Linked DNA regions of Homo sapiens. The protein of the gene in region 1 purifies or fractionates together with the protein of each later gene. This does not show direct contact. Each region holds a gene or a part of one and is shown in the gene's direction. Other genes may lie near its edges. The genes, in order: ZDHHC11, PDGFRA, DGAT1, FAM241A, EXOC2, RETREG2 and TMEM200A.

The links.
Region 2: the proteins of ZDHHC11 (region 1) and PDGFRA purify together in Homo sapiens (co-immunoprecipitation; one large-scale study listed by IntAct). This does not show direct contact.
Region 3: the proteins of ZDHHC11 (region 1) and DGAT1 purify together in Homo sapiens (co-immunoprecipitation; one large-scale study listed by IntAct). This does not show direct contact.
Region 4: the proteins of ZDHHC11 (region 1) and FAM241A purify together in Homo sapiens (affinity purification with mass spectrometry; 2 studies listed by BioGRID and IntAct, with this or other methods). This does not show direct contact.
Region 5: the proteins of ZDHHC11 (region 1) and EXOC2 purify together in Homo sapiens (co-immunoprecipitation; one large-scale study listed by IntAct). This does not show direct contact.
Region 6: the proteins of ZDHHC11 (region 1) and RETREG2 purify together in Homo sapiens (affinity purification with mass spectrometry; 2 studies listed by BioGRID and IntAct, with this or other methods). This does not show direct contact.
Region 7: the proteins of ZDHHC11 (region 1) and TMEM200A purify together in Homo sapiens (co-immunoprecipitation; one large-scale study listed by IntAct). This does not show direct contact.

Annotation. Positions count from the first base shown.
Region 1 is NC_000005.10:837,487-841,767, reverse strand, and holds part of ZDHHC11 (palmitoyltransferase ZDHHC11), read left to right. Parts: exon of another isoform or gene 1-75; coding exon of another isoform or gene 76-85; exon of another isoform or gene 86-923; coding exon of another isoform or gene 924-965; intron 966-1,117; coding exon 1,118-1,273; coding exon of another isoform or gene 1,274-1,349; exon of another isoform or gene 1,350-1,420; coding exon of another isoform or gene 1,421-1,549; exon of another isoform or gene 1,550-1,686; coding exon of another isoform or gene 1,687-1,796; exon of another isoform or gene 1,797-2,326; intron 2,327-3,229; coding exon of another isoform or gene 3,230-3,263; exon of another isoform or gene 3,264-4,281. UniProt on the Homo sapiens protein: Endoplasmic reticulum-localized palmitoyltransferase that could catalyze the addition of palmitate onto various protein substrates and be involved in a variety of cellular processes.
Region 2 is NC_000004.12:54,231,804-54,236,084, forward strand, and holds part of PDGFRA (platelet-derived growth factor receptor alpha isoform 1 precursor), read left to right. Parts: intron 1-165; exon of another isoform or gene 166-368; intron 369-1,296; exon of another isoform or gene 1,297-1,640; intron 1,641-2,156; exon of another isoform or gene 2,157-2,668; coding exon of another isoform or gene 2,669-2,695; intron 2,696-4,281. UniProt on the Homo sapiens protein: Tyrosine-protein kinase that acts as a cell-surface receptor for PDGFA, PDGFB and PDGFC and plays an essential role in the regulation of embryonic development, cell proliferation, survival and chemotaxis.
Region 3 is NC_000008.11:144,323,459-144,328,534, reverse strand, and holds the start of DGAT1 (diacylglycerol O-acyltransferase 1), read left to right. Parts: upstream 1-1,682; 5' UTR 1,683-1,898; coding exon 1,899-2,098; intron 2,099-3,153; exon of another isoform or gene 3,154-3,217; coding exon of another isoform or gene 3,218-3,237; intron 3,238-3,282; exon of another isoform or gene 3,283-3,890; coding exon of another isoform or gene 3,891-3,919; intron 3,920-4,306; exon of another isoform or gene 4,307-4,528; intron 4,529-4,561; exon of another isoform or gene 4,562-4,574; intron 4,575-5,076. UniProt on the Homo sapiens protein: Catalyzes the terminal and only committed step in triacylglycerol synthesis by using diacylglycerol and fatty acyl CoA as substrates. Highly expressed in epithelial cells of the small intestine and its activity is essential for the absorption of dietary fats.
Region 4 is NC_000004.12:112,148,134-112,152,414, forward strand, and holds part of FAM241A (uncharacterized protein FAM241A), read left to right. Parts: intron 1-4,281.
Region 5 is NC_000006.12:595,562-599,842, reverse strand, and holds part of EXOC2 (exocyst complex component 2), read left to right. Parts: intron 1-617; coding exon 618-763; intron 764-901; coding exon 902-983; intron 984-1,719; coding exon 1,720-1,822; intron 1,823-4,281. UniProt on the Homo sapiens protein: Component of the exocyst complex involved in the docking of exocytic vesicles with fusion sites on the plasma membrane.
Region 6 is NC_000002.12:219,180,494-219,183,624, forward strand, and holds part of RETREG2 (reticulophagy regulator 2), read left to right. Parts: intron 1-176; coding exon 177-261; intron 262-568; coding exon 569-712; intron 713-875; coding exon 876-970; intron 971-1,146; coding exon 1,147-1,282; intron 1,283-1,519; coding exon 1,520-2,136; 3' UTR 2,137-3,131. UniProt on the Homo sapiens protein: Endoplasmic reticulum (ER)-anchored autophagy regulator which exists in an inactive state under basal conditions but is activated following cellular stress.
Region 7 is NC_000006.12:130,364,355-130,369,242, forward strand, and holds the start of TMEM200A (transmembrane protein 200A), read left to right. Parts: upstream 1-1,662; 5' UTR 1,663-2,170; intron 2,171-4,888.

The DNA of each region.
Region 1 (4,281 bases):
TGCATTACGCCTGATTTTTGGAAGTGTGGTTTTGAGTGTTGGCAGCCCAGTGTCACAGAGGACCATATCTTAGAAATGACCCCAGGCGAGAGCTGTGGCTTTCCTGTTCTATTTGAAGGCAGCTGTTTTAGGGTGCAGCGGGTCCAGGGACACAGAGTGGGCCATGAGCAAGGGATGGGTGCTGGGGCCTGGCAGAGCTGGCAGGCTCTGTGACCCCGGCACTTAGGAAGGGGTGGGCACCGTGACCCTGGCACTAAATAAGGAAGGGATGGGTGCTGTGACCCTGGCACTTAGTGAGGAAGGGGTGGGCACTGTGACCCCGGCACTTAGTGAGGAAGGGGTGGGCACTGTGACCCCGGCACTTAGTGAGGAAGGGGTGGGCACTGTGACCCTGGCACTTAGTGAGGAAGGGGTGGGCACTGTGACCCCGGCACTTAGTAAGGAAGGGGTGGGCACTGTGACCCTGGCACTTAGTAAGGAAGGGGTGGGTGCTGGGGCCCTGGCACTTAGGAAAGGATGGGTGCTGGGGCCCGGCAGAGCCGGCAGGCACTGTGACCCCAGCACTTAGGAAGGGGTGGGTGCTGTGACCCCGGCACTTAGGAAGGGGTGGGCACTGTGACCCTGGCACTAAATAAGGAAGGGATGGGTGCTGTGACCCTGGCACTTAGTGAGGAAGGGGTGGGCACTGTGACCCCGGCACTTAGTGAGGAAGGGGTGGGCACTGTGACCCCGGCACTTAGTGAGGAAGGGGGGTGGGCGCTGTGACCCCGGCACTTAGGAAGGGGTGGGCGCTGTGACCCTGGCTCTTAGTGAGCAAGGGGTGGGCGCTGTGACCCCAGCACTTAGGAAGGGGTGGGCACTGTGACCCCGGCACTTAGTGACAATGTTGGAGCCTCACCTCCCAGATCCATAAAGCAGGGATCATGAAAACCAACCGAAGGCAGCAGGGCCTACGGGGCACTCAGGTAAGGGAGGCGTCCACCTGGGCAGGGAGACATCCCTCGCACTGGCTGTCCCCACACCGCCCCATCCCCAGCACGCTCTGGTCTGTGACGTCCACCTGATGTGGCACCCGTCAGCAGGTGCTGGACACAGTGGCTCTCCCTTGTCTCCCCAGATGTCAAGAATATGAACACGTGGCTGCTGTTCCTCCCCCTGTTCCCGGTGCAGGTGCAGACCCTGATAGTCGTGATCATCGGGATGCTCGTGCTCCTGCTGGACTTTCTTGGCTTGGTGCACCTGGGCCAGCTGCTCATCTTCCACATCTACCTGAGTATGTCCCCCACCCTAAGCCCCCGATCCCCCCAAGGCTGGGTGGTCAGAGCTGCTCATCTTACACCTCTACTTGAGTATGTCCCTAACCCTGAGCCCCCCACGCCTGGGGCCAGAGTCTTTGTCCCCCGTGTGCGCATGTGTTCAGGGTCAGCCTCTCCCAGAAGTGAGATCATGGACAAAAAGGGCAAATCACAGGAAGAAATTAAATCCATGAGGACCCAGCAGGCCCAGCAAGAAGCTGAACTCACGCCGAGACCTGCAGGAGTGGTGCCAGGTGCTTGAAGTAACAAGTTTAAAATGTTCAGAGACAATGGAATGGAATCTATTAGGCAAGAACAGGACATTATGAAATAAGGACAGGTGGACTTCCAAAAACACAAGTAGAAATTCTAACAATGAAATATATTACAGGCAGGTCACCCACTAACCAAACAACTGAAGCGAGAGCTGGTGGTCTTGCTTGGTCTCACAGTGGGCACAGCGGTAGGCGGTCAGTCATGTTGCTGAACGACGGAGGGTAAACTCCCCAGCCCCAAGGAAACCTGTGTTGGAAGTAACAACAACCTCCCTGCTCCTGGCACCAGCCGTTTTGGTCATGGTGGGCCAGCTGCAAAGCGTCTTCCATTCTCTGGGCAGTGGTGGCCCCGAGGCTGTGGCCTCTCAGGGGGTTTCTGTGGACACGGGCAGCAGAGTGTGTCCAGGCCAGCCCCCAAGAATGCCCTGCTCCTGACAGCTTGGCCAACCCCTGGTCAGGGCAGAGGGAGTTGGGTGGGTCAGGCTCTGGGCTCACCTCCATCTCCAGAGCATCCCCTGCCTGCAGTTGTGGCAAGAACGCCCAGCTCAGAATGAACACACCCCACCAAGAGCCTCCTTGTTCATAACCACAGGTTACCCTACAAACCACTGTCCCCACACAACCCTGGGGATGTTTTAAAACACACACCTCTAACGCATATCTTACAGTCACTGTTGTCTTGCCTGAGGGTTGAATTTTTTTTAATGAAAGTGCAATGAAAATCACTGGATTAAATCCTACGGACACAGAGCTGAATGTGCTGTTTTCAGAGTTTTAATTTTGGATGTCAAGGCCAGTGCCTGTATAGAATAGGTGCTTAGGATATGTTTACTGAATGGAATGGAACTAAAGCCTCAGGTGTAACTTCATGGAGACACGCGTCTGCCTTGTAGAATGTTACAGGCTGCCTGTTCCTGAAGCTGAAACCCTTAAGAGTGAGAAGTCATTTGGGCCTCCTTCAAAACTCTCCACCCTTCTTAGAATCAGGAATATTTTTAAAAGTACTTTCTAGAATTATCTAGCAATCTCTCTTATATTTAAATATTTTTGGGTTTACCACCTATGAAGGCTTTTCTGGAGTTTCACTCCACCCAGAATTCATCATCTCTCCTTATCAGGAAATCTCTCACCCTCAGATGCTTAGAGTCAGGGTGAGTCCCCCCACAACAGGAGAATCGGCCGAGGTTGGGCCGAGGCCACATGGTCTCATCCACATGTGCCGCAGATTAAGGGATGCTCAAACTGCCCAGTAATACAAAGTCTGCACTTGTCATTTTTTTCCAACTTTGTGTACAAAATGTTTCCCTGGGTTAAAATAGTCAATGCCCACTGTGTGCTGAGCACGTGGGGTGCTGCAGGCCCTTGTGCTGCAGAGAAGCTGGCCCTTGCCTCAGGCGGCAGAGCAGGGAAGTGCAGTGGGCCTGAAGCCATGCGGGGCTGGGAGGGATGACCTGGTCTGTCCTCTGAGCCAGGCACTGCACTTGGAATGGGCTTCTTGAACGCAAAGCCCAGACCAAGTGTGGCAGAAACATGAAAGGACAGGCAGTCGGCTGCTGTGGGCGGGAGGCAGGACGCCCAGGCCTGTCCCCACCCCCGTGACCCAGAGCCTCCCTGGGCAGTGACTCCAGGATGTCCAGGAGCTTCTTCTCTACCTCACAGGACTGGAGAGGCTGTGGTGAGACGCATCCTGTGAAGGCTGGGCTGGCCACAGGCAGCTCCCCAGGGCGCCCACCGCCATCTGCTCCTCACTGCAAATAGGCCTCTGTGGGCGGCCGCCCCAGTCTCCAGAAATAGTCACAAGACATCGGCTCTCACGGTGTTGGTGTTTAGGGAAAGAAGCATGGAGAGTTTGGCCCCTCCATGGAAGCTCGTGGCTGAAATAGGTGCAGAGCCCATTTTATTAACGTTTGTTAAGACGGCTCTTTTAGATAAACGGGTGTATCAGGTTTTGCTTTGCTTCCCTGGGCTGCTTTGCTGCCTGCAGGACAGGCCAGGTGGGTAGGGCTCTGGCCAGCCTGCTGAGCTGTCCTGTGGGCACTGTGCAGGGCTGCAGGGATGGTGACCTGTCTCAGCCCCATCAGAGGCTGTGCTGAGTGGCACTCACAGCACTCGTGTTCACCTCCTGGGCCTGGGGCTCTCAGCACGCTCAGGAGTGTGTGGTCCCAGGACCCGCTAGCCAGCACCTCGGGGTGGCCGCCCCACTGCGTGGTCCTCCGACTGTGGGGTCTCTGTGCATCCCCCAAGGTGCGCCCCACCCAGTGTCCAGATGTGGGGAACCCCACAGGCCATCTGGACCCTCAGACAGAGCGGCCCCTCCTGAGCTGGTCTCTTACCCCTGCCAGCGATCCCAGGGGATCTGGAGCAACCTCTCAAGCTGCATGGTATAGGGGACCCAGGTCTGTGAGAGACAGCTCATCTCTGACACCACTAACAATGCAGCTCAATGAGGCCGTGGCAGGCGGCAGGGGCGTGGGTCAGCACTGTTCCCCAGGTCGCAGCTGCAGACCCCTCCTGCTGACCATCAGCTAGCTGCAGAACTGGGCCCACAAGGCACCTGCACTCATCCTGACCTCACAGGGCCTGCATGGTGGGCGGAGCAGTTCTCCCTGTGCAGGGGCCGGATCAGTGGCACTGGCCACTCTGCTGAGCTGTCCTGTGGGCGCCGTGCAAAGCCGCAGGGCTGGTATCTTGTCCTGTTCCTCCTTTTCCCT
Region 2 (4,281 bases), on another chromosome or scaffold:
TTGTTTAAATCCTTAGATCGAGAAGGACTTGAAGGAGATCCCAGGCTCCCAGCTCTGCGCCCCTGGGCCAGTTTCCTCTCGGGACGCGGACTGAGGAGGGATGCAGGGGGAGGGGCATTGGGCCGGGCTTTCCAGCTGCAAACACGTCTGGCGCCGAGGCGGGCCCATTTTGTGCCTCCTGGGGACGGACCGTGGGCGGCGCGCAGCGGCGGGACGCGTTTTGGGGACGTGGTGGCCAGCGCCTTCCTGCAGACCCCACAGGGAAGTACTCCCTTTGACCTCCGGGGAGCTGCGACCAGGTTATACGTTGCTGGTGGAAAAGTGACAATTCTAGGAAAAGAGCTAAAAGCCGGATCGGTGACCGAAAGGTGTGGGTCTCAGGGTTCCCCGGGTCTAACTCGCCGGGTCCAACCGCAGCATCAGCCTTGGGGCGGCAGATAATCTTTCGGTCTCGCCTGGGGCGCAAGATGCAGGATCGGGGGCAAATGGCTTCTCCCAACTTCCCCCTAATTCGGGTTCTGCCAGATGGTTGTCGTTTGCTGAAGTGGCTCGGCGGCATTTCCTTTTGTTTTAAACTGATCAATGAGCGAACCTGGGATGGGCTGAAAAAGTAGATTGTAGGAGGGAATAATGGGAAACCCGACTTGGGGCGCCTCCTTCCCTGCCTCCTACTGCAGTTTCTCGGCCCCCGCGAAAGGGGAGCGACAAGCGCGGGTGGGCGCGGACTCTTGAGGGGGCAGAGGCGGCTATGGCGCGTGTCGGGCAAGGTGGCACCAGAAGGCACTTTTGTGTGTGTGTGTGACAAGAGTCTCGCTCTGTCGCCCAGGCTGAAGTGCAGTGGTGCGATCTCGGCTCACTGCAACCTCTGCCTCCCAGGTTCAAGCGATTCTCCTGCCTCAGCCTCCCGAGTAACTGGGATTACAGGTGCCCGCCACCACGCCAGGCTAATTTTTGTATTTTTAGTAGAGACGGGGTTTCACCATATTGGCCATGCTGGTCTCGAACTCCTGACCTCAGGTGATCCGCCCACCTCGGCCTCCCAAAGTGCTGGGATTTACAGGCGTAAGCCACCGCGCCCGGCCAGGAACGGTTCTTAAATGCCGAGAGGGCGCATGCTAGCTCTCCTCAGCATTCCCGGTGAGCCGCTACCCACGGCCGTGCGGCTCTCGTGCCCATAGGAGGCGCTGGCGAGCTCCTGTAACCCTAAACCCCTCGGCCCCTTTCCCCCCACCCGCCCGGATTCTCTTCCCGCTCTCCCCCCTCTCTCCACACCCGCCCGGCCCCCTCTCGGGTCTCAGTTGAAAACAATGCAAACGCAGAGCGTCGTGCCTGGGGCGCAGCGGCCTCTGCAGCTCTGAGGTTCAGAGCGCGGCGCGCAGGGGCGCAGGGGCGCAGGTCCCCGGAGCGGCTGGGCATCGCCGCCAACCCCGGGACAACCAAGCCGCCGAGGACTTGGTGGAGGTGGGAGGGAGAGCGGACCGCGCAGTGTTCCTCTGGGTCCCGGGGTCAGAAGCCGGACAGTGGCGGGGGCTGGACAGTCCGAGCGCAGAGCCTCCCGGGCGAAGTCTGCGCGCAGCACTCCCGGCTGCGCTGTCGGGGACCAGGAGCCTGGGCTGCGGGCGAGCTAGCTGGCGAGCCGGGTAAGATTCGCGGGGCTGTCGCGCCCTCTAGTGGGCTCCGGGGACGCATCCCGCTTTCCCCAGCCCCGGGCGGTCGGCGCCGCTATCTCAGTGGAGCGCAGCGCTGGAACCCCGGGGGCCCGGAGCGGAGGCTAATCTGGGTCACCTTTCCCCTCCTCCGGGCAGCCAGTGGACTCCTCGCAGGCTCTGTGTGGGCCCGGGAGGCGCCGGGTGGACGAGAGGGGGCCGAGGTCTCTGGGTTTGGATTGAGAATGGGACGTCCTTGTAATTCAATGTGGGAGAAGCAGGGGAGTGTGGAGGAGGACGGGTCCCGTGCGTTCTTGGGGGGCAGGCGCCGTCTTCTGCGTTCCAGCCCCTCGCCAGCTCCCTTGCCCCGCGGGCGGCCTGTTGCTGTTTGTTTGTTTTACGACCCTGCGTTATTGTGCAACGGTAACAGTCGTTTCCAATCAGCTGCGCGGCCGTCGCGGCCCTCGCCAGGCTGGTTTATGGGGGCGGCGGTGGCGCGCGGACAGATAGGACAGCGCGGCCCGGGAACGGCGTCGAGGTCCAGGCGGTCCCCCTGCCCCGAGGGGGCGGAAATGCTGAGGTGGCGAGAGCGTGGGTTGCACAGAACCCTAGTAGCGAGTCCGGCTGAGCCTCTGCGGCCTAGCCCAGCAGCGTCGTCTTCCCGGCTCCGAAGACGTCTTCCCGAAGCCCCGCTGCCCCGGCGCACCAGCTCCCGGTGATGGGGATGATGATGGGGATGATGGGGAGATGTCCCCGAATTCTCCTGGGGTCCCGAGGAGATTTAGCCATTTTCAACAGCAGTTTTCCTATTTCTGCTTAAACCCCGCGGGCTTTCAACTGAGGTCACCACGAAAGCTAAAAGTACAACCTAAGGAAGGAAGAGACTGGAAATTAACATTTGGGGTAGTGGAGCTCAGAATTCCTCGCAGCGGCGTCTGTGTCGCAACCCGTGGACGCACGTCCTTGGACCAACACTGCCATCTGCTGGCCACTCGTAAGAACTACTGCGACCCGCTGTGAGAATGGGCTTCGCGGAGACCATTAGGAAGGTGCTTTATTTTTTATTTTTTATTTATTTTTTGCTCAGTAGGACCGTAATAGGTGACTGATTTTCTTTTGCTGTGAGGCTACAAGAATTGCTGGAAGACAACATTTTTATTTCGTGGAAATTTGTGTTGTGTTTCTCCTTGGTTGTTAATGCTTTGCATTTACATAGTGAACATCTTATTATCAGAGCTGGCCTGTGAGGAGGGTAGTGGGGGGGCATTGATGTTCCCGTTTCTGAGTGAGGAGACCTATGTCGGGGCCTTGGTGACCTCAAGCCGAATGCTCAAACTGCTACTGCTACTCCTAAGGTTGTGCCATTAGGAGTCACACCCGTTTGGTGATATTCAAAAGGATATGTCATTTTATTCTCCCGTGGTTAAATATATGGTGAGAGGAGAGCAGGCATGTTTATGAGCCCAGATTGTCCCATAAAAGGCTCCTGTTTAAAAACACTCCAGCCCCCTCCCATTACTGGAATGTCTGATGGAGCTCCGGGAGATCAAAACAACAAAACAGGCTCTGGTAGGGTGCAGAGGTCCTGGTAAACACACCCTCTGCTGGAAAACAGGGAGAAGTTTCCACCAGTGTAGACCTGCACTTGGTTTGCCTGGGCTGAAGTTAGGAGACTGCGTAGAAAAAGGAAAATGTGTAATTTTCACAGTTAGAATTAACTTAGGAGAGCTGAAATTAACTGAGCCTCGGAAATCTGAATCTTGAAGTCACCAGTGGCTTTTGGGGCTGTGAGAGAGTCTCCTGTGGTCTTTAATCATGTGAGGGTGGGGTGAAATTCAATATTCAGTGGTTCTGCAATGGGATGCACTGTGCAATTGGTGATTGAGAAGCCAACTCTCTGGCTTTAGGAGAAGAATGTCTTGCTGTTAGTCCTTCTGGAAATAGAGCCTTGCATTGCCTACTGTCTGTTTACACTACCTTTGCACATTGCCTTTGGTTATAGAGTCATGTCCAATGGCTCTTTACTTCTGTTTGCAGGGCAGGAGATGGCACCCTGTTAAAGAGAAAGGATAGTAGCTGCAAAGTCATTTGTTTCTCTGTTTCTGTGACTGTATATATTGGCTCATCTTTGAATGGTCTTTATAGCCACACCAGGCTGGAGGTAACAGGGTCATGGGAGTGGACTGCTGGTGTGGGCTGAATCAGAGTTCAGATCCATGTCTCCAGGAGGTAGGAGGTGCAGGGCAAGTCATGTGGCTTCTGGGGCATCCCTCACTTTCTTAGTTAAGGAGAAGTTGAAGGAGCCGATCTAAAATATCTTGGGAGTCTGCAGAAAAAGTCGTGAAAATCAAAGCACTTTCAATTAAACTATATAATTTAGTCCTTACAAGAATGCCACAGGGCAAGCAACCAGTCAGGCCTTGGTAGTCGTGCTTCCTAGAAGAAAAGACTGAGGTTCAGAGAGTTGGATAGAGTATCAGATTTGGGATCAGTGGCTAGTCCAATGTGATTTCCATCCTTTCTTCTGAGAGAAAGCATAAGAAGGCCAAGAGGATGGTGGAAAAGCACAAGTCACCTGCCTGAGAGTCAACAGGGCGGGGGGTCTCTTTCTCAGTTTGTTCCTCTAAGTTATGGC
Region 3 (5,076 bases), on another chromosome or scaffold:
GGGGCAACCAAGGGGGCAGCCCTGCTGGCCACTGTTGGTGGAGGTGGTGGAAGAGGACGGAGCTCAGAGGCGAGGCTGTGACCAGCCCACGGGAGAGGACCCCACCTCAGGAGGAGCACCTGTTTGCTTCCAGAGAAGTGCTGCTTGCCCCTGCTCACCCCAGAGGAATGAAGGTGTTTCTAGAGTCAGAGTCCTCAGTGAACCCTGGCATCCTGAGATCCAGGATGTTCTCACTCCATGCCCTGTGCAATATGCACACCAAGCCAAGGTGGGCCGCAACTGTGGCTGTTACAGTTGATTAGTTGCTTCATTTAACATACAAGATGTCTGGGGCAGTGGCTCATACCTGTAATCCCAGCACCTTCAGAGGCCGAGGTGGGAGGATTGCGTGAGGCCAGGAGTTCGAGACCAGCCTGGGCAGAATAGCGAGACCCCCATCTTTAGAAAAAATAACAACAGGCCAGGCGCGGTGGCTTGCGCCTATAATCCCAGCACTTTGGGAGGCCGAGGTGGGCGGATCACGAGGTCAGGAGATCGAGACCAGCCTGGCCAATATGGTGAAAGCCCGTCTCTACTAAAAACAGAAAAATTAGCTGGGCGTGGTGGCACGCGCCTGTAGTCCTGGCTACTCGGGAGGCTGAGGCAGGAGAATCGCTTGAACCCAGGAGGTGGAGGTTGCAGTGAGACGAGATCGCGCTACTGCACTCCAGCCTGGCGACAGAGTGAGACTGTCTCAAAAAAAGAAAAAAGAAAACAAAAAACAACAGGGCGGTTGCACAGGCCGTGCAAATGCACAGAAGCCTCTTGAGTCCCGGCGATCCAGCGGCCCAGACTTCTGACATCCTGGAGAGGCTGGCCCACGTTGGAAACTGGGAGGCCCTGAGAGTTGAGGGACGTGGAGCTCCTTGTGGAGAGAGTGGGTGGGCTGAGAAGACACCACCAAGGGGCCTGCGCCCTCGCCCTCGCCCTCGCCCTCCTCTCGCCGGGCTCTGCAGGCGGGGAGGTGGAGAGCCTGGGAGTCGCGTGCAAGGCAGGCGTCCCGGTGACGCAGGGCCTGGTGCATTTCTCCAGCTTGGTCTTCTGACCTGGCCCTTGTCTGACGTCCCCCTAAGGCGAAGAAAAGCAGGTTCCTGCCGGGGTAACCAGAGGGCTCGCGGAGCAGAAGCGCGCCAGGGACGTTACTGTAAGCTGCGTGCGCAGAAACCAACGCGCTGGGTGGCGGGCGACGCGAGCCGCCGCGGACACCGGCCCGGACAGCTGGACCGTGGCGCACTAGGCGCTTCCTAAATGATTGCCCGGAGTGACTCGCCGAGACCCCGTGTGTACACAAGTGGGACGAGGGGCGGGCGCACAGCGGCCAGGAAGTCGGGGCCCAGCGCACCCCTCAGCGGACCATCCCGCTCCGTGGGGCCGGACAGGACCCCGGGACCACGCGGGAGCGATGCAAGGTCCGTTCCCGCTGCGCGCACTTGCGGCCCGCAGCCCCGGCCCTGGGAGCTGCCACGGCTCCCAGGGTGCTCTGCGCCGGTGCGGCCGCGGCGACTACGACTCCCAGGGTGCTCTGCGCCGGCGCGCCCGCGGCGACTACGACTCCCAGGGTGCCCTGCGCCCCGTCAGCCTCTCCAGGCCCCGCCTCAGGTCGGCCGCGGACTACAAATGGACGAGAGAGGCGGCCGTCCATTAGTTAGCGGCTCCGGAGCAACGCAGCCGTTGTCCTTGAGGCCGACGGGCCCGACGCGGGCGGGTTGAACGCGCTGGTGAGGCGGTCACCCGGGCTACGGCGGCCGGCAGGGGGCAGTGGCGGCCGTTGTCTAGGGCCCGGAGGTGGGGCCGCGCGCCTCGGGCGCTACGAACCCGGCGGGCCCACGCTTGGCTGCGGCCGGGTGCGGGCTGAGGCCATGGGCGACCGCGGCAGCTCCCGGCGCCGGAGGACAGGGTCGCGGCCCTCGAGCCACGGCGGCGGCGGGCCTGCGGCGGCGGAAGAGGAGGTGCGGGACGCCGCTGCGGGCCCCGACGTGGGAGCCGCGGGGGACGCGCCAGCCCCGGCCCCCAACAAGGACGGAGACGCCGGCGTGGGCAGCGGCCACTGGGAGCTGAGGTAGCGGAGCGCCTGACCCCCTAACCTCTGACCCAAGGGCCCCGCGACTTTCCGGGGTTGGCCGAAGCGCGAGCTCCGAGTCCGAGAACATGGGCCCTGGGCTAAGCGGGGATCGGTGTGCCCTATGGGCCCTGTGGGGAAACTGAGGCTTGGGGAGAGTCACCTGACAAGGTCACTGGGTAGGGGCTCTGGAGCTGGCCTTGGCCAGGCAGAGGGGAGCCGGCAGGTGTCCCGCATCCAGATCCTCTTGGGTCTGTGCATCCTCAGGGGCTCCTGAGGAGCTTTTCGAGGGGCGGGCTGGTGGGGGCCCGGCCCTGGACAGTGTCCCCTTATATGGAAGGAGTCAGATAAGATCTGGGCAGTTTGTGGTGATAGGTTCCTTCTTGGTGCTATGAGCGGTGCCTTGCGGGTAGGAAAGGCTCCCAGAGGAGGGCTGGCCTGCCAGGGAGGGGGCCAGAGGAGCCCAGGCCTGTCCGAGGACAGGGGAATCAGCAGCTGCCCCGGACAAGGGGCAGTGTTAGAGGCGTTCTTGTCCTTGCAGACCCTTCTGAGAGTGGCTGCGTGGCCCATTCATTGCTCCAGTGGTTAGGCTGGCCTGGAGCCCTGCCGATGTTGCCAGAGCCAGCGTCTGTTGTAGGGACAGAGAGTTGGGTTCTGTGTTGGGACTTCCATCCTCCAGGTGGGGAGTGGGGTATGGGGGTGGTGGACACACCTGCAGGCGTGTGCCCTGCTCAGCTGGATGACTGACAGAGAGGGGTGGAGGGAGAGAACCATGGCCGATGGGAAGGACTTGGCCAGCCTGGGCATTGGCTTCCTCCACCAAGCTGGCCTTGAGCAATCCCCTTGCCACCCTCCATCCCCCCTTTATGGCCTTTACCCTGGCCCAGGGGCCCTCAGGGCTTTGTTTTAGAGAGCAGCTGAGGGCCTAGAGGTTATCAAGGCAGAAGTGGGCTGATTTTGGACATGTAGTTGGCAATGATTTGCTCTCTCAGTGAGCAAGAACAGAGCTTTCCTTCACGGGGCACCATGGGGAGGGGGTTGGGGGAGGGCAGGCACTGTCGTGGCCCTCAGGGTGCTCAGTTCATCTGGGAGATAAGATAACCTCAGCGAGAGTCAGGCATGGAGCAACATGGACAAAGGTCGGGCACGGAGGCCTTGAAGGGGCCGTGGGGAGGAGGGTGGCCCTCCTGAGAGGGGTGCTTGCCTGCTGTGGGCCTGGGGTGCTGGTGAGGGAGGCTGGCCTAGGCACCTCCTACCTGAAAAGGAGGTGTGGCTCCTGGAGTTACCCTCTCTCCAGGAGGCAGGGGGATGGCTACATGACCTGTGGAGGACGTGGGAATTGAGATTTCTTTTTTTTTCTTTTCTTTTTTTTTGAGACTAGTTTTGCTCTTGTTGCCCAGGCTGGAGTAAAATGGCACATTCTTGGCTCACTGCAACCTCTGCCTCCCAGGTTCAAGTGATTCTCCTGCCTCAGCCTCCAGAGTAGCTGGGATTAGAGGCGCCCACCACACCCGGCTAATTTTGTATTTTTAGTAGAGATGGGGTTTCTCCATGTTGGTCAGGCTGGTCTCGAACTCCTGAACTCAGGTGATCCACCTGCCTTGGCCTCCCAAAGTGCTGGGATTACAGGTGTGAGCCACCGCGCCCGGCCGGGAATTGAGATTTTTTTTAGTGTGAGATGAGGGTAGTCCCAGCTTTGGGCCAAGCCGCCACCTGGGGGTAGGCAGGGGAGAGCAGTCACCTTCTTGCTTTGCAAACCAGCAAGGCTTTCCTGTACTTCTGCTGGTGTGGGATGGGTGCAGAGCTCGTGGGAGAGGCCTGGTGAGTCCCTGTCCCTGCCGTGGAGGTCGGGTCTCCTTGGGAAGAGGGGCAGTAGATGGAGAGGTGAGGCCTTCATGGGGCTGGAGGCTGAGACCAAAAGTCTATCTGCTCCTGGGTCTCCAGGACTTGCAGGCTATGTGTGCTTGTCCCTCAGACCTAGGGATGCAGCAGGGCTCGGCCACTGGCTGTGGACACTGGGCTCTTCTCCCTGCTGTCTGCGTCAGGCCTTGCTCTGCCTGCCCTCCTGGGACTTGGCCTCTAGCGCACCCCCTTGTCAGCCTCACAGCCTCCCCTCCCTCCAGCTTCCTGCTGCTCTTGGCCCAGCCCAGCCTTTCCTCTCCCGCTTCCTCATTACTCCTTGAGCTCGGGCCTCCTCCCCTCACGGACACTTCCTGCTCACCTAGGGCTGGGCTCTGGGTGTGAGCTCCTTTCTTCCGGCCCCGTGGCAAGGTGAGGCTGTGAGGCAGGCAGGAGAGGGCACCCCTTTCTGCTCTGCTTGTGGCTCACTCCTGCCAGGCTCTTTGCACACACCCACCAGCCCTCTGCTCACAGGCACCCCAGTCGGGGCCATCCGGTTTCTGGCTTCTCCCAGGGTGTTTTGTCCCTGAGGTGTCCTTTCTGACTCTCCCTTTCTCTCTCCAGCAGGGTCTGCGAGGTGCAGGGAGCCTGCCCCAACCATCTTGAACCCAGGCCCAGCCCAGAGGCCAGAGTGGAGGAGGCGGCAGTGAGCAGAGCTGGACTCTGCCCCCTCCTCATTGTGCTTGGCCCTGGAGCTGCACTGTGTGGGCCCCAAGTGTGGGACTCACTGGGACCTGTGCCTTTGGGCACACTTTGAACCTGGAGACAGGGTGGCGGGTGGGCATGTGCCAAGGTCTCAGTGTTGCCGTGAGACTGAGAGGATCCTGCTGGCTGGGTGGGCCTGGGGGCTGCAGGAGGGAGGGCAGGCTGCTCCGAGTCTTCTTGGACTAGGGAGTGGGTGTAGGGACAGCTGGAAGGTGCAGAGGCTTGGGCAGATCCTCCAGTCAGTGAGAGGGTGATAAAGGTGCTCTAGGCACAGGGGCAGATCCCACCTCCCCATGCCGTTCCATGCAGCCTGCCCTGTAGCCCACATGCTGCTGGCCGCACTGACTGCTTGGAGCTCTGTGGGCACTGGTGGA
Region 4 (4,281 bases), on another chromosome or scaffold:
AGTTTGCCCTTTCCTAATAATTTGATGGAGGTTTCTTTCTTGGGCTATTTCTCAAGCTAAATCCTCGTCCACATACATCCCTTCCTTCACTGATTTTTCTTTCCACTTCTGTCTGAAAGGTTCATTCCTTTTCCTCAACCTGGAAAGCTCTTTCATCAGCTTGTTATTACAATACCAGAACAAAATGTATCTTTATTTTGTTACTTATTTCATATATATATGAAATATATAAAACACCTAGTATTAACATAGGTGTTTTATTACTAGTTAAGATATTGTCTGCATCATTTTTAACAATTTGTCTTTAGATGCTACTCCATTTGAGCAAAAAATGAAGGTTCTTCTGTCATTCTGGCCTGAGTCTTTCCAGGTAGGGCGATTGACAAAGGATGCCTGGTTAAAATCAAGTCACTTAAGAAAGGAGGCCTTGGGAGAATGAATCAAGTCCTGTAGATGAAGAAACTGTGCCAGGTTTGAAATAGGATCAGGTGTCTAAAGAGAGATAAGCAAGGGAAAGAAGCAATTTCAGGGAATGTCCAAGAAACTGAAGGGACAGGACACAGCTATTCCATATATGTGTTGGTAATTGTGTGTATGAGAGATGATCCAAGTATGTTCATGAGGGTGAATGCCAGGTGGCTTTATGTAAGAGTTTCTGTGCCCTGATGCATAGCTGAAAGGCTAAACATCTCTAGTCCATTATTATATGCCTTAAATGTCAATAGCATCTGCTTAGATGTGGCACAATGTACAGGTCACTCACAATCTGAAATAACCTAACATGACCCTCTTACCTAGAGAATAGGGAAGTCCCATTATCCTTAGATTGACTTTCGAATTATTAACTCTAGCTTTAACGTCTTTATGATTATAAAAGTAATGTGTGCTTTGGAAAATTAGAACTATAGAAAGATCTAAAGAAGAAAAAAGCCTTTGAAATCCCACTCTATTTTGGGATTTTGATATCAAATATTTTGATATCAAATATGAAACTTGGTATTACTACAGTATATTCATTTGTCTATGTGTATATGCATATATACACACTTTTTTTTTGAGATAGGGTTTTGCTATGTTGCCCAGGCTAATCTCAAACTACTAGCCTCAAGCAATCCTCCCGTCTCAGCCTCCCGAAGTACTGGGATTACAGGTCTGAGCCTCTGTGCCCAGCCACACATGTATTTTTAATATGTTTTAATATAAATATAATTTTGTGTCTTCTTTTACAAAAGGTTGTGTCATTTTCCCATGTTATGGAAATTCTATGTGAAAACTCTCTTTAGGGCTGCCAAATAATTCATTCCCCTAACACCGCACATTGAAGTTGCTTCAAGCTTTCTTTTATAAATCGTGCTGTCTGAAAATATTTGCTTGTAAATCCTTAAACTTCTACCCTGGTATAGATTCCTAGAAGTAGAAGAACTAGGTCAATGAGTCAAACTCTTTGAAGCCTCTTGAAACATCCTAAAGAATTTAATTCAAGAAAGGTTGTACTCATTTACACTTGCAGCACTGGTGTGTAAAAAGGCCAGTTGGAAACCATCCATGCCAGCAATGAACAATATAGTTTATAATCATTGCCAATTTCATAGGTGAAACTTCTATCATATTGTAAGCTGTTGCTGGAGAGGTTTACTAAACCATTCATATATTTATTAGGCATTTGTATTTCTTTTTAGTCATTTTTTTTCTTTTGGCATTATAAGGATATTAATCCCTTATTTTCACATTGGCTGTAAATATTTTCTCTGCTTGCTATTTACTTTATAATTTTATTTATGTTTTTTAAAATTTGATAATGCTTTGAATTTTTATTAAAGGAATTTTTTTGGTAATTTCGTATATACACACACCACTCACATGTATACACGTATCTCTTTCTATACATATTAAGAAATTTTTTCTAATCTTACAATCAGTTAAATATTTGCCTATGTTTTCTTTTGTATGTGTGCATTTATGGTTTAATTTTTTACTCTATATATTTAATCTCTTTAGAATGATTTTCTATATTGTATGAAGTATGGAGCTGATCTTTTTTTGTCCTAATCATTGAATAATGTACTTTCTGCCTTGCTTTATAATCTTTTATAGTATTAAGGATTATATTAAAGTCTGTATTAAGTTTTTATATTTTTGTTGGTATTATGAAAAGGATTTTTTCCATATCATATTTTGTTGGTGGTTTCTAGCTATTGGCTTTTATGTATTTCATTTTTAACTGGCCATCTTTCTAAATTTTTATACTGGTACTAATAAATACTAGTAGCTCTTAGACTTGATTCATTTGCATCTTCTAGGTATATAATTATCCAGTTTATAGATAAAAATAATTTTGCTTCCTTTCAAATGATAATGTCTCATTTCTATTTCTTGCCTTTGGCAATGCCTAGAACTTTCAGAACAATGCTGGCTCATAGATAAATGTAAGTAAATAAATGAAGGAACTTCTGTAACAGCATTTGCCAAAGTGTGTTCCATGAGATGATCTGTAAAAAAGAAAACAAAATGGGGGGTTCAGTGAGGGGGGTCCATGCCTTTTGATCTATCAGTAGAAATATGATTAACAGTACAGATTCTAGATCAGGGTTACCTGGGTTTGCCTTTTATTGACTGTAACTTTAGGCAAGTAACTAACCTCTCTGGGCTGCAGTTTCTGCATCTGCATAATGGGAATAATTGTAACAACTTCATAGGATTATTGGAAGGATTATATGAATTAATAATATATGAGATGTACTTAGAGCAGTCTCTGGCACATAGCTATCTAGCATGTGAGTGTTAGCTGTTAGGCCTAATTTTGGACCAAAGTCCTAACTGAAACGAAATCTGAGAAAGGCAATTTTAAGTTTTCCAGCCTCTGCAATTAGAAAACCACCTGAGGCGAAAAGCAGAACAGCATTAATATAGTTTGGGCGTTTGTTGCCTCCAAATCTCATACTGAAATGTGATCTACAGTGTTGGAGGTGGGATCTGGTGGGAGGTGTTTTGATCATGGGGGTAGATCCCTCATAAACGGCTTAGTGCTATGCCTTTGGTGACAAGTAAATTGTCGCCCACTTAGTTCACACAAGATCTGGTTGTTTAAAAGAATCTGGGACCTCTCTCCCTCTCTCTCCTTCCCTCCCTCCCTCTTGCCATGTGACACTGCCTGCTCTCCCTTCACCTTCTGCCATGATTGTAAGCTTCCTAAGGCCCTTACCAGAAGGAGATGCCAGCACTATGTTTCGTGTACAGCCTGCAGAACCATGAGCCAAATAAACCTCTCTTCTTTATAAATTATCCAGTGCTATATTGTCTGTGTCTGATTTTTTTATAGCAATGGAAACTGACACAAGTATTCCTCAACTTCAGTGTGCATAGGAATCATCTCTTATTAAATGCAGATTTTGATTCAGTTGGTTTGGAGTGAGGTCTGAGATTTTGCATCTCTACAAACTCCTAAGTGATGCTGATGCTGTGCCCATGGACCACATTTTGGCAAGGGAATGGAGAATAAGCAAGTCAATATACTGTATTCACCACACTTGCCCTTCAACATAGTATCAGTAATATATACATATGAAGTTGTTTAACTATTTTCTTAGAAGTGTATATTTAAACTCTTGGTAAAATATGAGAAGCCAATAGTTGTTCCCTAGGCCACGTTATTTGCTGTAGGTCCTACAGCTAACTCATGCTAGAGCAGACTAGAACCCAGGTTTCCGAACACCAAAGCTAGTGTTTTTTGTTTGTTTGTTTGTTTCACAAATACAAAAAGCACATTACATGATGGAAAAACAGTCTGACAAATTTTCTGCCCTACTTTAGATGGTGTAGTTCAAAACTAAATATTAGTTTATACTCACTTCCTTTCACGTATTTTAAAAGCAGTTTGCAAGCAATATTGTAATAAGTGCTATGAGCTTAGTTGAATTCTGCCCTAACTTAATCTCATCTTGTTCCTAAGGACATCCAGTCACTAGAGTAACTCAGGGAATAATTTTGCATTTGATAGGCATCTTTTGTTCATTTTTTTAAATCATCCAGACTGGAACTTCTAAATCAGTGGTTCTCAACTGGGGGCCTTTTGTCCATAGGGGGCATTTGACAATGTCTGGACATTTTTTTATTGCTGAAACTAAGGAGGTGGTACTGACATCTAATAGGAAAAGGCCAGGAATGCTGGTAAACATCGTATAATGCCATAGTCCCCTACAGCGAAGTATTATCTGGCACAAAATTTCAATAGTGCCAAAGTTGAGAAACAATATTCAAAATATGTAAGGGTTACAGTCCTTT
Region 5 (4,281 bases), on another chromosome or scaffold:
GCAGCTCATGTATACTTTTATAAGATTAGCTGATTTAAGAAATATTCATGATGCTGCCTTCACATTTGTCATTTGTAAATTACTTATATAATTTTCTTTGCCTGCTACGTAGAGGTAATTCTGCCAAGGAATAGAATTTGTTTTAAATATTTCTATTGAGCAACTTTCCTGAAAATGATTTCCTTGTTTTGTTTATTGTCCCATATGTAGATATTGAGTCCGCAGAATTTAGCTAATGTACACGTGTATGCACATACATGCGTATGTGTGTGTTTTACCCTATTGTATGAAGTTCTGAAATAACCTAAGGGCCCATAATTGCTATACAGTTTAGAAGTGTAATGAAAATAAATGTAGGTTCACATTAGAGAATTTATTTGGGCATGGTAAATATGGTGCTTTTTATATTGGATACCATTCTTAACATATGAAAAGACTTAGGCAAAATGGAAATTTTATTTTAGCAAACCATAAAAGATCCCCTAAACTGAAAAACAGTCTGAGTTTTAACGTAAAACTACAATAGCAGTATTAACATTTTGTTTCTAGTGCCCAGTTACACATTTTCTGATTAAAATCAGCTTTCATCTAAGTTTCCTTTCCTCTTTTTAAAACAGGAGCAAGTAATACTGCAGACACATTGTTTCAAGAAGTATTAGGTCGGAAAGACAAGGCAGATTCCACTAGAAATGCACTCAATGTGCTTCAGCGATTTAAGTTTCTTTTCAACCTTCCTCTAAATATTGAAAGGAATATTCAAAAGGTAGAGTACATGTTTATTTATTTACATATGGTTGTAGATGTCATACATTTTTAAGATTTTTTAAGATGTTTTTTATATTAACCAAATGTCTTCATTTTGCATTACTGACAGTTTTCAAAATGTTTCTTTATTTTAAAGGGTGATTATGATGTGGTTATTAATGATTATGAAAAGGCCAAGTCACTTTTTGGGAAAACGGAGGTGCAAGTTTTCAAGAAATGTAAGATTCATGTATTACTTTTAGATCTTCTCCTTTCCTTTTATAGGAAGAATGTGGAATGTGTTCTGCAAAGAATGTTATATGAGTTTTTAGTTTTTGTTTATATGAGGCTCTCTTTACAATGTAAAGCAATTACTTCAGAAATAACAGTATGACTTTTCTTATTTGATACGCAGTGAAAATGAGCAACCACGACTCTAGGTTGTTCGCCTGAGACGTTCTCTGCCGTTTGTTAACCATCACGCTGTTAGAAAGTCTTAGTTTACTGGAAGGAATCAATGACAAGTATTTTCTAGAGATGGAAACCTACATTTTAATCTTCCCGTCTTCAGAGAGACCCATAGACTGAAGAATTCCAACCTCCTTTAAAGGAAGCTCAGCAACTTTTGAAGTTATGTCTAATGCCAGAGTTACAGTCCACCAGGAGAAATATCACAGGGCCTTATTAAATTTAAAAATGAAATCTGTAAGGACCCAGAAAACTAAATTTATTTTTTTATTGTGGTAAAATATACATGCAGTGAAATGTACAGACCTCACATGTTAGAGGTCAGTGAGTTTTGACAAATATGTACACCCTTGTAACCTACATCGGAGATAGTGTTCTGATCACTCTAGACACGGCCCTGGTGCCTCTTAGCCCTCACCCCACAAAAGCAACTACTATTCTGCTTTTTGAAATTTGATATTAAATTTTCATTCTGTAAATCTTGTGTATTCTTTTCTTTTTAAATAGATTATGCTGAAGTAGAAACAAGGATTGAAGCTTTAAGAGAATTACTTCTGGATAAATTGCTTGAGACACCATCAACTTTACATGACCAAAAACGTTACATAAGGTAAATCTTCTGCAAACATTTTGTTGAATCACATGTATCTGTTTGGTACTGTATGCATCTTGTAACCCTTAAGGCTAACTTGAGGGACTTTAGGAGATTGATGAAATGGTGAAGGGGAAGACAAATAGCAGAAATTTAGGGTTATCTGGCGTAGGACATCAAAATTCTTTTGAATACTAATAGATTTGGGAGTAGTTATGGAGTTACTCACTTTTTGAGAAAACTCTGCCATTTTCGGGAAAGGAAAAGTAGTCTCAACCTCTTCCTCCTGCTGAGCAAAGGGGTACCTTGCCTAGTGGGATGGTGTGGGTACCCATAATCTGTGAAGGAGGGGCTCCCTGCATGGCTTAAAGCAGAATACTGTCACACACTGGGTGGGAAATGCATTATGCCACAAGAATGTGCTGCTGCTTAACAGCACAGTAAGTTCTGGAAGGTTTTAACCTTGAATAGCTTTCTGATTTCCAAGCCTTTAGTGGTCAGTGAAAGAGAAATAAAGTCACTAAGTGAGCATACTTTTTAAAAAATTGCAGTAATATTGGGCCGGGCACCGTGGCTCATGCCTGTAATCCCAGCACAGCACTTTGGGAGGCTGAGGCGGGCGGATCACTAGGTCAGGAGTTTGAGACCAGCCTGACCAATGTGGTGAAACCCCATCTCTACTAAAAATACAAAAATCAGCCTGGCATGGTGATGTGCGCCTGTAATCCCAGCTACTCAGGAGGCTGAGGCAGGAGAATCGCTTGAACCCGGGAGGCAGAGGTTGCAGTGAACCGAGATCTCACACCACTGCACTCCAGCCTGGGCAACAGAGTGAGACTCTGTCTTAAAAAAAAAAATTTGCAGTGATATTAAGAGAGGTGAATTTCACAGGATATGAAGAGAAGGCCTTAGAGAGAAACAGTATCACATAATGGGAACTAGCTGTTAACTTTGGGCAACCGACTTGAGTTCTATTTTTCGGTTTCTTCATCTGAAATGGACATGGTAATCAAATCTGCATCTCAGGATAGTTGCAAAGATAATCAGAAATACATTTAAGGGTTTAATACCTCACCCGGCACATAAAAAGTAGTCAGTAAATTTTATGTACATGTAGTTTATGTCAGGGTTTGGAGATAAAGCATATAAATTTTAAGTTTTTTATATCTGTGATTAAAAATATTAACTTCATTTTCTGCTAGGATTTTTTGAGTATGGCCTTTGTTCTCAGAATAAATTATTTTCCAAATTTAATGGTTTTTCCACTTGAATTAGTGAAGTTTATTGACTATTCAGTGGTTGTAAAATGACAGACTATGTATTTATGAATTTAGCTGTGGTCCCCATGTGACCTTTGAAAATAATGTCTCAGGAACAGACACAGTGGCCCAGACCTGTGATCCCAGCACTTTGGGAGGCCAAGGCAGAAGGATTGTTTGAGTCTAAGAGTTCAAGACTAGCCTGGGCAATATAGCAAAACCTGGTCTCTGCAAAAAATCAAAAATTAGCCAGATGCGGGGATGCATGCCTGTAGACCCAGCCACTCAGGAGCCTGAGGCAGTAGGATCTCTTGAGCCCAGGAGTTCGAGACTGCACTGAGATGTGATCGTACCACTGCACTCGAGCCTGGGTGACAGCAAGATCCTGTCTCTGAAAAGAAAAGACTGTCTTGAAAAGAGCGTCTGGCCTGAAAGCTGCTGTGTGTGCAAGTGTGAACGGGGGAAAAGATCCGCACCTGGACCTGTGTCCTAGTGATGAGGCGTACGGCGGGAGTATGAGCCGTCGTCATTGGCAGCACACTAGTATTGCCCAGGAGGAAGCAAGCAGAGGCAGTGGCGGTGGGATGAAGAGAGGGTGCTGTGTTTGCATGCTGCCACCCCTGCACGTGTGCAGCATGCTCAGGCGCTGTGCGGGATGTGTTCTACATGTCCTCTCTAATCCTGATCACCACCATGAAAGGACGCTTGTGCGGTGCCCATTGTACAGGTGAAAACACGGAAGCTTGCCCAGCACACACAGTGACCCGGGGGACGGGACGCCTGTTTGGCTTCAGAGCCCACTCTTGTTTCTCTCTAAGCTGCCTCCATAAGAAAGAATGTATATAGGGGATTTTCCTGGTTTGTAGAATCCTAGAAATGTAAAGCTGGAAATAAACCACACATTTGTCATCCAACTGCTTTATTTTCTACCTAGAAAGCGACAGAGTTGCAGGGAGGTTGAGCGTAGTGTCCAGGACACGCAGCTGGGTAGCCTCAGACGTCCTGAGGCTGCTGTTTCCTGCCCTGCTCCTTCACTGCGTGTGCTTTGTATATTTCTGGCCTGTTTACACTTGTTATGTTAAACTTGCCTATAGTAGTGTGTTAAATCTTGTTGAGTGTACAAATTCTTTATGTTGTGGGTTACCATCTATATGGATAACTCATGTGCAGTTTTTATGAGTATATAACTTACTGGATATCGTTTAAAAGGTGGTAGTG
Region 6 (3,131 bases), on another chromosome or scaffold:
TTATGTATTGCCAGCTTCCTGAATTGGTGGTCTTGAGCATCCTCTTAACCAAACTGGACCACCCCATTCCTTGAGTACATACCCATCCTTCTACCAGCTGAGCAGTAGTTTCTTACCCAGCCGAGCGGGGCGCATATCTCAGCGTGATGTTCTTAGACTTTTGCTCTTCTCTGCAGTTCTGCGTTCGAGTCTGCTCTGGCTGTGCTGTGTTGGCTGTGTTGGGACACTATGTTCCAGGGATTATGATTTCCTACATTGTCTGTGAGTAGGGTCTGTCCCTGCCCTATTTAAAGCCCTCTCCTTTCTTCTTTCCTTGGACTGACCCAGAGGGAAGACTATGCTCTCTCTGCTCAGTTTCTGATTTGTGGAGATCTCCAGGGATGCTTTAGTATTAGTAACTGTGGAAGACTTACCTGGGGAGGAGGGCAGTGGATGTGGCAAGAAGAGGTTGGCACAGCCTTGGGAAAGGACCTTGCCTACCTTCAGCACTTCAGTTTAGGGACCAGTTGAATGGGGGCTCTTAGGAAATTGGCGTAGGGAGCTCTTAGTTCACGTTCTTAACCCATAGTGTTGAGTATCCTGCTGTGGCCCCTGGTGGTTTATCATGAGCTGATCCAGAGGATGTACACTCGCCTGGAGCCCCTGCTCATGCAGCTGGACTACAGCATGAAGGCAGAAGCCAATGCCCTGCATCACAAACACGACAAGAGGAGTAAGGGGCTGCCCTAAGCCAGGAGGGTGAAAGAGCGGGAGGGCCTTGGCTTGGGGTTCATGAGATGCCCTGGAATTGAGATCTTCTCCAGTTCTTTAGCTGTGTTTGTCTCCCCTCCCATCATTCATGCTTGGTCATTGCTCTACTACTCTTGCTTTTCTAGAGCGTCAGGGGAAGAATGCACCCCCAGGAGGTGATGAGCCACTGGCAGAGACAGAGAGTGAAAGCGAGGCAGAGCTGGCTGGCTTCTCCCCAGTGGTGAGGTCCAGGGAAAGCGGGGGTGTCAAATAGAAAGCCAGAGGAAAAATCTTTCTGCTTTGGAGCTGCCACCTCCAAAGGAGGTGGAAGCCAGAGGTTTTGGGAGAGGGGATGCTCCTGATAAATTGGTTCTCTTATCCCCTCACATGTCGTGTTCATCCTGGTTCTCCTGCCAGGTGGATGTGAAGAAAACAGCATTGGCCTTGGCCATTACAGACTCAGAGCTGTCAGATGAGGAGGCTTCTATCTTGGAGAGTGGTGGCTTCTCCGTATCCCGGGCCACAACTCCGCAGCTGACTGATGTCTCCGAGGGTATGGGGAGCCCTTTGCTGCCCTGCTCCCCGCCACAATCTTTGTGTTCCCTACCATGGGTACTTACTGTGCTCTCTGGCCCACTCACTCTCTAATTCTCTCAGCTCCTAAAAGACCTTAACACCTAAGGCTTGGCCCAGCTTTCCATGTCTTGAGTTCTCATCCTTGAACTCATTGTCTGTTGTGGCTAATCAGACCAGCAGCAGGCCCATTCTTAATTCTTTGTTCTCTGCACAGATTTGGACCAGCAGAGCCTGCCAAGTGAACCAGAGGAGACCCTAAGCCGGGACCTAGGGGAGGGAGAGGAGGGAGAGCTGGCCCCTCCCGAAGACCTACTAGGCCGTCCTCAAGCTCTGTCAAGGCAAGCCCTGGACTCGGAGGAAGAGGAAGAGGATGTGGCAGCTAAGGAAACCTTGTTGCGGCTCTCATCCCCCCTCCACTTTGTGAACACGCACTTCAATGGGGCAGGGTCCCCCCCAGATGGAGTGAAATGCTCCCCTGGAGGACCAGTGGAGACACTGAGCCCCGAGACAGTGAGTGGTGGCCTCACTGCTCTGCCCGGCACCCTGTCACCTCCACTTTGCCTTGTTGGAAGTGACCCAGCCCCCTCCCCTTCCATTCTCCCACCTGTTCCCCAGGACTCACCCCAGCCCCTGCCTGCCCCTGAGGAAGAAGAGGCACTCACCACTGAGGACTTTGAGTTGCTGGATCAGGGGGAGCTGGAGCAGCTGAATGCAGAGCTGGGCTTGGAGCCAGAGACACCGCCAAAACCCCCTGATGCTCCACCCCTGGGGCCCGACATCCATTCTCTGGTACAGTCAGACCAAGAAGCTCAGGCCGTGGCAGAGCCATGAGCCAGCCGTTGAGGAAGGAGCTGCAGGCACAGTAGGGCTTCCTGGCTAGGAGTGTTGCTGTTTCCTCCTTTGCCTACCACTCTGGGGTGGGGCAGTGTGTGGGGAAGCTGGCTGTCGGATGGTAGCTATTCCACCCTCTGCCTGCCTGCCTGCCTGCTGTCCTGGGCATGGTGCAGTACCTGTGCCTAGGATTGGTTTTAAATTTGTAAATAATTTTCCATTTGGGTTAGTGGATGTGAACAGGGCTAGGGAAGTCCTTCCCACAGCCTGCGCTTGCCTCCCTGCCTCATCTCTATTCTCATTCCACTATGCCCCAAGCCCTGGTGGTCTGGCCCTTTCTTTTTCCTCCTATCCTCAGGGACCTGTGCTGCTCTGCCCTCATGTCCCACTTGGTTGTTTAGTTGAGGCACTTTATAATTTTTCTCTTGTCTTGTGTTCCTTTCTGCTTTATTTCCCTGCTGTGTCCTGTCCTTAGCAGCTCAACCCCATCCTTTGCCAGCTCCTCCTATCCCGTGGGCACTGGCCAAGCTTTAGGGAGGCTCCTGGTCTGGGAAGTAAAGAGTAAACCTGGGGCAGTGGGTCAGGCCAGTAGTTACACTCTTAGGTCACTGTAGTCTGTGTAACCTTCACTGCATCCTTGCCCCATTCAGCCCGGCCTTTCATGATGCAGGAGAGCAGGGATCCCGCAGTACATGGCGCCAGCACTGGAGTTGGTGAGCATGTGCTCTCTCTTGAGATTAGGAGCTTCCTTACTGCTCCTCTGGGTGATCCAAGTGTAGTGGGACCCCCTACTAGGGTCAGGAAGTGGACACTAACATCTGTGCAGGTGTTGACTTGAAAAATAAAGTGTTGATTGGCTAGAACTGCTGCCTCCCTGACTGTGAGCTGCCTTCCACACCCTGCACTGCACTGTGTTCTCTCCTCACCCTTAACCTGCTTCACTCCAGTCTGTTCTGGCTGTTTATTACCTTGTTGCAAAACAGGGCCGAAGCAAG
Region 7 (4,888 bases), on another chromosome or scaffold:
CTTAGAGAGGATGTCACCTCAAATGATCTATGGACTATGAGCCTATTCCTATTACTCACTCCTTAGATAGTGAGGGGAACCAGGAGGTGTTTCCTCTCAGGAGCTTTACAGACAATGTGGCTTCAGGGTGTTTCTTTATAAAATGTAGAGGTAACTAGGAAGAGGGCCCAATGGAAGCACACTCCTTTGATATGGTGCTTGACAAACACATTTAAGAAAACCTAAGAGAATTGAGCAGGTGGCTGTGGGCTAGAATACTAGATGCAGGTGGGGTAAAAATAAAACCACAGATGGTTTATAAAGGTGACTCATCCTTCCCCCACCGTAACTCCTTTAGTTTTCTTTTCTTTCTTTTTATAAAACATTTTGATTGTGACATCTCCACTAAAAGTGCCCAATCTCTAAATTCTTCTAGTCAAGGCAAGAAGGTTATACCACAGGAAATCCATTTCTACAGTCTCTTCTCATTGCCATATCTGATTTTAAAGACTTTTTTTTCTAATGTGGAAATTTTTGCATGGCTCTCCCCCACCCCCCAAACACGGATTTTATACCCCCCCAGAAGCAAACTTTTCTTGAAAACGAGATAAACAGATCACACGCCGAAATAAACAAATACACTGCACCAGAATATCATACTTGCCTTCTATCACTTAAAACAGATCCAGGGGACACAAGCATAGCACACACCTTGTGCATGCGGCTGGCCTGCACAGGGGGTGGTTGGAATATCCGGTAATTAGTTTTACATGAAACTTTACTTACGGAATTGGCCTGCATATATACAGTCATCACCGTCTTTGCCGAATTAGAGACGACATATTTTACTCTGTGAACAGGCCAGTCTCCACTCACTGGATGTTTGGGGTCAAGGAGGAGTAACCTGAACCTCTCGTTGGCTTTGATGTTTGGAGTCGAACATCCGCACTGCTCATCGAAGACCCCCGTGCTTCAGTTCCCTCTGTCTTCCATTTCCCCCGCCCATGGTTCTCGCCCCCCCAAGCCGTTCTCCGGAACCCCTTGCCGGGCCGGCGGGAAGCGTGGACGGAGCGGGCCTTGGCCGCGTCTTTTCCGGCCAGGTTTGGTTTAGCTCGCGCAGCGCCCGCGCAGCCCGCCAGGGGGACCCCGGCCCGCCGGGCGGCATCTGAGGAGAAAGCGTCCGAGGGGCGTGGAGCCAGGGTCCTGCGGTGCCTGCTCCGGGAATACTGCGAGTCGGCTGGAGCTCCCCAGCCGCTCCGGAGAACTGGGGGAGCCGGGTCCCTGGCTCGGTAACCGGTGGTCCCGCGGTAGCTAGAGGCGGGCCCCACGGGTGGGTGTGTCCGTTTCCGCACGCCAGCCTTCCAGCCCGGGAAGAGCGCCTGCAAGCGGGTACTTTGTTCCCAAAGATGGGTTTTGTCTGCGGGTGATTTGGGCTCTCGAAGTGCAACTTTGTGGCCGGGACGCGGATCGGCCGGCCTGGGCTCCTGCAGAGCAGATCCTGTCTGCGTCCTCCAGGAGGAGTGGGTGGCAGGACTGGGGTTTCCCACAGGTTTTGGGGCGGCGGCGAGATTGGCACGGTCCGGGGTCGCAGGCGCGCAGCCACGCCCCTGGAAGTCCGCCCCGGCCCCCGCCCCCAACCCGCCTCTTCGGGGCTTTATGGCGTGAGGTTTGGGGCTGGGATCCATCTGGAGCCGAGCAGAAAACTTTTCCCCTCCCGTTCCCGGTCCCTTTTGTCTTTCTTGGACGCGGTGGCGGCGCCGCCTGAGCGGCGACTCCCTCTCCCCTGCCCGGCTTGCTGCGCCCGGTGCCCTCCGAGGGCAGGCGCGCCTGGACTCTGCGCCCGGATGGCGGCGGCCCTCTGTGAGCACCGGCAGCGGCGCATCCCCTGCCCCGAGGCCTCCGGTGCCCCCCCGGCGCGGGCATAGGGGCGCCCCCACCCTCCGTCCGCTTGCACCCCTTGCCACCCGCCCCCTCGCCTGACTCATCCGCCCGCGGTGGCCGCCCGAGCCCTGGGATGGGGAGGGAGACCGCGGCTGCCCGCGGCGGCCGAGATTCCCGCTGACGCCCCCGACCCTGCCGCCTTCTTCGTCCGCCTCCAGAGGCGCCCGACGTCCCGACAGCTCCTGGAGTGAGACCAGGACTGAGAACAGGGAGAGGCGACCCGACCCCCAGGGCCCGGTGCTCAGGACAGGTGAGGGGAAGGAAAGGGTGCTGACGGGAGTGGGGAGGTGGGTGGGCGGCCACCGCAGCCGAAACCGGGCACTTCTTCAGCCCTCTGCCCTCCCCTCCCCTCCGCTACAGCCTCCAGAGTTAGGTAAACGCTGTCTCTCCTAAAGTTTGGGAAATAAACCAAGTCCGCCATCAGGTCCAGACTCCCCAGTCCCGGGAGCGCGAGAGAAGCCGTGCGGGGCAGCCTCCAAGAACCCGGAGTACTGGAGCGCCTGGCTGGGTTTCTCCAAGCAACACCCTCCTTTGTCTCGGTTCCTGAGAGTCAGCATTCTCTGTAATGTCCACAGCGTTAATTCATGATTGAGCAAAGTATGGTCAGGGTTTCGTAAAGCAGTATCTGGATGGGGTAGAATCTACACAGGCAAAATGGAGAGGCAAAGCAATTATTTGCAAAATTCAGCACTACTCTTCTCCCTGTAGTCTTGTCTGTAAGAGAAAGGACTGAGGGCTTCTAAGATTTGCTTCATTAATCATTCTTTTGCTATAAATTGTTCCAGCCAACACTTCACATTGTGTAGGCGCAAGCTCTCTGTGTGTATTTACCGCTGTTTGATTTAGAAAAATGTGTGTGTGTTTGTGTGTTTTTTTTAAATAACAATTCATTGTTCAGTACCGGGCATTGGTAATGTCGGAGAGAAAGGCAGATGCAGCACATACAGGTAATTGACTAATTGGAATCAGCCTTAGTCCGGTCCACCTTAGTCTGGTGTATTTAAAAACTAAATATGTTGGACTAAAGTGTCTCTTGCCTTGTCTCTTCTGAATACCTTCAGAAGTAGTTATGGACAACTGCATAGAAAACATTTCAAGAATCGATGATTATTCTTGTTTATAAGAAAGAATATTGAACTCTCGGTTTTGCAATCAAACCAAGTTTGAGGCACACTTTCTATAGTGCTGTATGCATAAATATTACCAGAGCTTGTGAAAGCTATTTACTTTGTCGTTTCTTGAATTATGGAACACTTATAAAAAGACCTTCAATTTGTTATTTGGCTACTGATACTAGAAAGCATTATCATTTTGTGAAAAGTAGACTAAATTTTGAAACTTTTTAAACCTTACTTTATTTTCCCACTGTTTACCTACACAGAAGTATGTAGTTGTAGTTTCATTCTTTATAAACACCTCAAGTGAAGAATAGAAGTCCTTCTAAACAGAAAATAATGCTTCCATTAAGTGGAAACTATAGTTAAATGCTTTGACAATTTAACAGTATGATTTTTTTACTGTAAAAAACACACACTGAGGTGTTTAGAATGATTTTTTAACCAAGTCCTACTAGATAGCTCATAATTATGAGATAATGTAACTATAATTTGTAACCCTGGTTATAATTAGCTTTGTATCTGGGCTGGGAAAGCCTTCATTAGAGTTGTATGGAAAGTCCCTGTAGGTAAATTCCAGGCAGTTAGCACAGAAAGGCTTCACCTGTTGCCTTTGAGGCAGGTCTAGGTAAATGCTGTAGTGTCTGAAGACACCCGTAATCAGAAGGGATTCTTCAGGAAAGATCATTGTAAAGAGGGATGGCTGTACTTGTTATTTTAACTTAGTGGAATTTTTAGTGAAGCTTTTGAATACTACAGGAGTTAGATTGTTATATTTGGACTTGTGTAGCTTCAGAATTTTGACAATAGCTCATTGGCCAGAAAAGGATAACTACTGACATATAGAGGGAACGGATCTGAACTGATTGGTTAAATGCTGTACTTCTCATGATGACTCTTAGCATAAAGGAAAGAAATTCATATTTAGCTTAGGAAGATAGATAAGAACAAAGATAAAAGCAAATGTCAACTTTTACATTTCTTAAGCAAAATTAGTAGAGGATAAAAAATAAGCCCTTGTAGTCATACACGTTACTTATCAAATAGAGGGTAGAATTTAAAAGAGGAAAAATAACTTGTGCAGCAACAGAAATCCAAACCTGCAATGAGATGGACCTCATTTTATTAAGGAATGTATATCTGATTTACAGTTTTATCAAGCAGATCCACTTGTTCCTGGACTTACGCTATGTTTTGTCTGCTGAGATCTGATATGTGCTCAAACACTCAGAAAACATCAGTGAGTGCTTATTGTGGTGTCATGCTAGCTACCCTTCCAGGCCTTTTCTATGGGCTTATAGGCTGATGGAGAGGGGACTGATAAATGTACCACAGATCACCTGGCAGCTGAGGTGGTCTGAGAGCAGCAGGGGACCAGTGCAGACTGGGAAGCAGCATAGTGGGTTGCAGAGGGACCTGGATGGGGAGTTGTCATCTTGACTGAGTCACTAATTAGGTGGCTGTGGGTAAGTGGCTAAGTTCCTCCACCTTTCTGCTCCTTGGTGCCCTTATCTGCAGAATGAGGGCTTTGGACTGACGATCTTTATGGTCTCTCTTTAAAATGCTGCAAGGCAAATTCTGGCAGAATTAAAGAGAGACAGAAGTCAGTGTGTGTGTGTAGGAGGGTGGTTTGTAGGGTTTTGGTTGAAGGAAGCCAGGCTGGAGGGTCTTGCTAGTTGTATTGAATGGGAAATGGCAAAGAGAAGTAAAAGATGTCTGGCCTGGGACATCTGACCTAACATTGATTATGTGAATTGAAAATACATAATAAAATAATAAAAATACCAGCTTTCACTTAGTACTGGGTGGTTTTCCATGAATTTTCACAAATGATGCAATAGATTTTTGTAACA